2 separate regions of the Homo sapiens genome follow, and region 2 is reported to be linked to region 1. Evidence: microRNA targets listed by miRTarBase, many of them from high-throughput screens and not tested one by one. Region 1 holds a microRNA gene; the other region holds the end of a gene's coding sequence.

What was found. Region 1 holds the annotated microRNA hsa-miR-342-3p (UCUCACACAGAAAUCGCACCCGU, at 2,248-2,270, shown strand). A microRNA usually pairs through its seed, bases 2 to 8, with sites in the 3' UTR of a target mRNA and lowers its output. Matches are read on the target gene's strand: a 7mer-m8 pairs with bases 2 to 8, a 7mer-A1 pairs with bases 2 to 7 and ends in A, and an 8mer does both.
Region 2: the mRNA of PRKCSH is a reported target of hsa-miR-342-3p. The part of its 3' UTR that is shown has no 7-base or 8-base seed match.

Annotation. Positions count from the first base shown.
Region 1 is chr14:100,107,468-100,111,003 of GRCh38, forward strand. It overlaps MIR342 (microRNA 342), which reads left to right and starts at 2,188; the gene lies at 2,188-2,286. The region is part of intron 3 of EVL (Enah/Vasp-like); the gene reads left to right. MIR151B (microRNA 151b) reads right to left here and starts at 2,047; the gene lies at 1,952-2,047.
Region 2 is chr19:11,448,875-11,452,122 of GRCh38, forward strand. It overlaps PRKCSH (PRKCSH beta subunit of glucosidase II), which reads left to right. Exons shown (of 18, transcript NM_001289104.2): 15 at 40-114; 16 at 202-301; 17 at 392-554; 18 at 1,772-2,094. The coding sequence ends at 538. It overlaps ELAVL3 (ELAV like RNA binding protein 3), which reads right to left. Exons shown (of 7, transcript NM_001420.4): 7 at 2,452-3,248. Among named protein-coding and RNA genes, the nearest start is that of PRKCSH, 15 kb to the left of the region's middle. RefSeq lists an enhancer at 3,238-3,248.

The DNA.
Region 1 (3,536 bases):
GGAGGATGTGTGCAGGCCACAGGACAAGTCTGAGCAGAACCATGGCCACGCCCAACGTTCCTCCACTAGCATTCCCTCATGAAAGATCACTTTTTCCAGGCCAAGGACCAGAAAAGGACCAGGCTTTAGGAAGAGGGCCGAGGTGCATGGAAAGCAGTGCTGGTGAGGAGAGGGTTGAGTAACTGGATTTTGACTGTTTCTTCGCATTTGGTTCTCACTAATGAAATCTTGTCAGACGTGCCCCTGCTGCTGGATTGGGTGGGGGTGGGACAGAAGCATGTGTGGTCAAAGGCAAGTTTATTTGCAGTTTGGGGGTTGAATGCAGTGGATTTCAAACTGGATATTTTGAGGAGTTCCAGGGGTCCACCAAGGTATACCAGGGTCCTCGCCCTGATGCAACCAGAGTAGTTCTTCATCGACTTTATACAGTGGGACTCTGAAGAAAAGAAAAAGGAAAACCCCATAGCTTAGTGGGAATCCGGGCGAATTAAAACACAGGATGAAGTGCTTGTTCTCTTTGGCTCTTGGAGCATAATGTATGTCCTTTTCCTACTTGGTTTGCGTGTAATAACATCATTGGTATATTTCAAAATATGAAGCTCCTGGTGCTGGATAATAAATGTTTTCCCAGTTTTTCAACCTCTTATGTCCTTCATTGATGCCCAGTGGCCCAGGGGCTGCACCTTCAGCACAGTGTTGAGAAAGAGCCCCGGAAAGGGACTTACAGGCAGACCTTCCCGGGAAGAGTCAGGCCCAGCTCCATGTGCTCTTTGGAGGGGAGTGGAAGGTTGTTAAACCTCATAGCTCTTGGAGGTGGGGCTGAATTTTGCTTCTTGTAAACCTCTTTCCATTGGAAATTACCTCTTTCTCCCCTAAAGAGAAGGAAGTACTGGACTGTCTTCATCTCCCTGGCTGCCGAGGCCATTTGACACCTTGTGCCACCTGAGAGAAAGCAGGCCCAGCATGGCCCTGCCTGAGGGGAACAGGACGGCAAGCCCCTGGCCTCCTGCCTGCTCCCAGCTGCCCTCTGGCGGCCACTTTCTGAAAGCCGGATATGTCTCTTTGCTGACCCACCCCTGTTCTCACCCCAGGGCTCCAGATGTTGTATCAGGCAGGGCCTTTGTACGCCTCCATGCCAACAGCTACCCAAGTCGCACCGTCAGTCACACTCTTACTCAGGCTCTCCTGTGCCCCTGGCCCTTCTTCCCCTCTCACTTTTCCCCACACTTCTAAAATCTCACTCGTCCTGTCAGAATGTGGCTCCACAGATGGAGCCTTTCCCAGCCGCCCCGCTCCCTGTGACTTTGCACTCCCTCCTGCACTCCCACGGGGCTTTATTTTTGCCTCTGTCCTAACAGTCAGCTGCCACTTGGCCTGTCCTGCTATTCCCACTGCATGAATCTAGTCAGGTTGGAAATTCAGAAAGTGGCCTCTTTGTCTCTGGACCCCAAAAACCCACACATCGTCTGCCTTATAAGCTCTCAGTATATCCATCCCTGGCTGCAGGAACACACCAGGACCCAGAGGCTGCCGTGCCTGGAGCCCTGTCTCCTGACTCAGCCCAGGCCCCAGCTCAGCATCGAGGTCCTGTGGGACCATGTCCAGCAGTGAAGGCTGTGCATTGGCCTGAGCCCCTGGTCCCTCTGACTCACTGGCTCCCATTTTCACCACCTGCACTGCATATTCTCACCGTCTCTCCCCTGACACTCTCTCCCCTGAAGTGTTGTAATGGGGTTGTAACCCATCCACCTTCTCTTGTCCTTCTTCAGTCTGTCCTCCCTGGGCTGCGTCTAAAGGGGCCCCGCCCCTGCCCTCATGCATGTTCTCTCCATACTCCTGGTCACCTTCTGCTCATCCTTTGCCCTGCTGTTGTGAAGCCTTCCCAGTGCCCCAGAAGACCTCAGGCACCCCTTCCCAGTCCTCGCACACTGTTGGTGTCCCATTTGTTTGGACCCTGGGTTTGTTTGTCTAGACTGTGAGCTCCTCGAGGGCAGGTGTCTGTTTCTGTGTCTCGGGAGCCCTGAAGAGAGACTGACACATCAGAGGTGTCTGGTGACTGAACAAGCTCCCAGCTTGCGCCCATGTCATATTGTGTGCCTCTCATAGCCTGGCACTTCCTGCCATTGCATCCTTCTCTGCAGACTAAGATGGAGTTCCTGAACCAAGACCGCTTGCTGGCCAACCTGTGAAACTGGGCTCAAGGTGAGGGGTGCTATCTGTGATTGAGGGACATGGTTAATGGAATTGTCTCACACAGAAATCGCACCCGTCACCTTGGCCTACTTATCACCACCCCAAACAGAGGAACACGCCTTCTCCAGCCACAGCCTATGGAAGGGCCTTCAGCTGCTGTGGCCCCGAGGTGTGCATACTGTGGAAGGAACTTCGGACGTGAACTCGGATCTGGTTCCAGTACCAGCTGTGCCAGGAGTGTGCCCTTGGGCATGTCACTGACCTAAGACTCAGTTTCGCCATCTGTGAAATGGCTGAATCAGACTCACCTCACAGGGTTGTTGTGAGGGTACCATGAGATGATGTTTGTAAACATTCTTTGTCACCTCTAAATTACTATAACAGTTTGAAGTTACTCTTTTTAAAAAAATTATTTGCAAAGGTAACTAACAATATCAGCCGTGCACAGTGGCTCATGCCTGTAATCCCAGCACTTTAGGAGGTCAGGGGATCACTTCAGTGTGAGAGTTCGAGACCTGCCTGGTCAACATAGCAAGACCCTTGTCTCTACAAAAGCATTAAAAATTAGCTAAGTGTGATGGCGTGTGCCTGTGGTCCCAGCTACTCAGGAGGCTGGGGTAGCAGAATTGCTTGAGCCCTGGAGTCTGAGGCTGCAGTGAGCCATGGTTACACCACTGCACTTCAGCCTGGGCAACAGAGCAAGACGCTGTCTCAGGAAAAAAAAAAAAAGGTAACTAACAATATCAACTCCTGTGTGGTGCCAGCAGCCATCACGTTGGGACACAGAGGGAAGCCAGGCTTCTTGGATCCTGATGGTCAGAGAACACTTTCTGAGGGAAGCGGGGCTTGAACCTGGGCCCTGCAGGGCTGGGGGTGAATGGGGGGATCTGATGAGGAGGAGGACGGCGGCACCAGCAGATCTTGGTGGTTTGGAAGTTCAAATCAAGATCTGAGAAGAGGCTCTGTCTGACCCTGGGGGTCTCCCTCGGCACATTGGTAGTACTGTGCATGCCTCACGGGTGCCCCTAATTTCAGAGCATCCCACCTGCATCCTGCTGCTGCCATTGTCCTCCTCAAAAGAGCTGCTGGCTTATTGCAGTTTACATCCTAGAGAAGAGAGGTCTCCTCCTTCCACCAGTCCCAGGATTATCTCCCTAACGCTAATGGCGAGATTCCTTTGGAGTTTTAGTCTTCTGTAGATACAGCCCAGGCGCCATGTGCCCAGTCAGGGTTTGAGATAGGTGGTGGTTCATTCCCCAGCCTTGCCTCACCAGCACCTTCCTGACGCCTCCTGGTAGGGCTCAGGAAGCAGCCAGCTGAGGTGTGCCTGCCATGGTCAGCAC
Region 2 (3,248 bases), not on the chromosome of region 1:
CCCTGCGTTCCCCAACCCATATGTCCCGGTCCTCCACAGATACGTCTACCGCCTCTGCCCCTTCAAGCTTGTCTCGCAGAAACCCAAACTCGGGGGCTCTCCCACCAGCCTTGGGTGAGTGGCTTGGGCTGGCCCCTTCCCTCTGCCTCCTCCTGGTGCCCCGACACCGGCCCAGCCCTCAGCACCCTGTGTCTCTCACAGCACCTGGGGCTCATGGATTGGCCCCGACCACGACAAGTTCAGTGCCATGAAGTATGAGCAAGGCACGGGCTGCTGGCAGGGCCCCAACCGCTCCACCACCGTGAGTGCCTGCAAGGCAGGGGAGCTGGGGCGGGGAGACCCAGGCCTGGCCCAGCCGAACCCTCTCGAGCACCCGTCTGCCCATCCCCAGGTGCGCCTCCTGTGCGGGAAAGAGACCATGGTGACCAGCACCACAGAGCCCAGTCGCTGCGAGTACCTCATGGAGCTGATGACGCCAGCCGCCTGCCCGGAGCCACCGCCTGAAGCACCCACCGAAGACGACCATGACGAGCTCTAGCTGGATGGGCGCAGAGGTGGGCGGGGAGGTGGAGTCTCGTCGGCCTGCCCCAGCAAGGGGAGGCGGCGGGCCCTGAGGAAGATGGACCCACATGGCCACTCTATCAACCTGTGTCCCCATGTTCCCTGCTTTTTTGTTTTGTTTTTTTGAGGTGGAGTCTCACTCTTTGGCCCAGGCTGGAGTGCAGTGATGCGACCTCAGCTGACTGCAACCTCTACCTCCCGGGTTCAAACAATTGTCTTGTCTCAGCCTCCCAAGTAGCTGGGATTACAGGTGTGCACCACCATGCCTGGCTAATTTTTAGTAGAGATGGGGTTTCACCATGTTGGCCTGGATGGTCTCGAACTCCTGACCTCAGATGATCCACCTGCCTTGGCCTCCCAAAGTGCTGGGATTACAGGCATGAGCCACCACACCCGGCCATCTCCTGCCTTTTTTTTTTTGGATGGAGTTTCACTCTTGTTGCCGAGGCTGGAATGTGGAATGCAATGGCGCGATCTCGGCTCACTGCAACCTCCACCTCCTGGGTGCAAGCAATTCTCCTGCCTCAGCCTCCTGAGTAATTGGGACTACAGGCGCCGCCACCACGCCTGGCTAATTTTTTTGTATTTTTAGTAGAGATGGGGTTTCCCTGTGTTAACCAGGTTGGTCTCGATCTCCTGACCTCGTGATCCGCCCTCCTCAGCCTCCCAAAGTGCTGGGATTACAGGCTTGAGCTACCATGTCTGGCCATCCCCTGCTTTTTAAAAAAAGATTTTTTTACTTTTGAAACTAAATAGGCCAGGCGTCGTGGCTCACATCTGTAATCCCAGCACTTTGGGAGGCTGAGGTGGGCGGATCACTTGAGGTCAGGAGGTTGAGACCAGCCTGACCAACATGGTGTAAAACCCCATCTCTACTAAAAATACAAAAAAATTAGCTGGGTGTGGTGGTAGGTGCCTGTAGTTCCAGCTGCTCAAGAGGCTGAAGCACAAGAATCACTTGAACCCAGGAGGTAGAGGTTGGAGTGAGCCAAGATCATGCTACTGCACTCTCCAGCCTGGGCTACAGAGTGAGACTCTCAAAAAAAAAAAATAATAATAATAAGAGAAAATAGACAAGGTCTCCAGGCTGGTCAACTCCTGGCCTCAAATGATCCTCCCACCTCAGCCTCCCAAGCAGCCGGGACTACAGGCAAACATCACCATGTCCAGCTGTCCCCAGCTTTCTAATCTGGTCTTTCTCTTGCCCCAGAACCTCAAGAAGGCATGAAGCCAGCCCCTGCAGTGCCGTCCACCCGCCCCTCTGGGCCTGCCTGTGGCTCTGTTGCCCTCCTCTGTGGCGGCAGGACCTTTGTGGGGCTTCGTGCCCTGCTCTGGGGCCCAGGCGGGGCTGGTCCACATTCCCAGGCCCCAACAGCCTTCAAAGATGGGTAAAGGAGCTTGCCCTCCCTGGGCCCCCCACCTTGGTGACTCGCCCCACCACCCCCAGCCCTGTCCCTGCCACCCCTCCTAGTGGGGACTAGTGAATGACTTGACCTGTGACCTCAATACAATAAATGTGATCCCCCACCCAAACTTGTCTGTGTCTGCCTCGCTTTGCTGGGGTGTGGACCGGGGTGTGGGCAGGGGTTGAGCGCAGGGGACGCAGCTTTCTGCAGATCCCACCCGGGCCTCCCCCACCATCTGGGGATCACTCCTGAAGATACCAGGTGGATGGACCCTGGACCATTTCTGTCTTGAGCATCCATCCGGGCCCGTGTCCCACCTTCCCTGGGTCTCATCTGTGCTCTGTGGAGGCCAAGGGTTCCCTCCCGGGGCCAAAGCCCCTGCTGCAGACAGACCCAGGCCCAGAGAAGGACGGGGGCCTGGGCGCTACTACACAGGCTGCTCCTGCGTGCTCCCCGCGCAGCGGTGCAGAGATCACCCAAGGCCTTAAGATTCTGAACTTTTATTTTCTGGCATGAAAAGTACAAATAATTAAACAATTCCATGTAAAAGTCTGTTACCGCGGCCAGGCCTGTGATCCCGGTAATAAATAGTCTAAACGCAACGCGAAGTGTTCTTGTTGGGTTTTTTTTTTTTTTTTGTCTTTTGTTTTGTCTTTTTTTTTTTTTTTTTTTTTACAGTTTTTTATCACCTCCAACATGGACTCTGTCGTGATTTGAAACCTTCCGAATAAATAACAGGATGAAGGGAGGGGTGGAGGGGCTGAGCCCCCTCCCCCCTGGCCTGGCCCCTGCCCCCCAGGGACGTGGAAGCCCCAAGTCCCCCTCGCCTGGGAGCCCCGGCCTGGCCCCCTGCGGGGAGGGGCTGGCCTCCAGGGAGGGGGCCTGGCTGGGCTGAGTTTTGTGTTTTAGAAAAAGAAGTCCCCTCCCAGTCTTGGGGGTGGCAGGGGCCTAGGCCTCGGTGGGGGGGGGGTGTGTGGGGAGGTGCCCCCTCTCTGGAGCCTGGCCCCCCCCAGGGTGGGGGACAAACCCAGCCCTTATTGCTCGGACGCCCTGCTGCAAGCTTCCCACGCGGACGTGCGTGTTCCCGAATGCAGAGGGCGGAGGGGAGAGAGCCCCAAGAGACAGCAGGGGAGAGGGGTCCCTGCCCTGCTGCAGGGGAGAGGAGAGAGGGCAGGGAGGACTTAAAACCACGAGAATAAATAGGTTCGTGTATCAAGAACAAGCTAGGGATTTCACCAGCTAAATAGGACTGAAAAAATTCTCAAGACAAGAGCAAAAAGA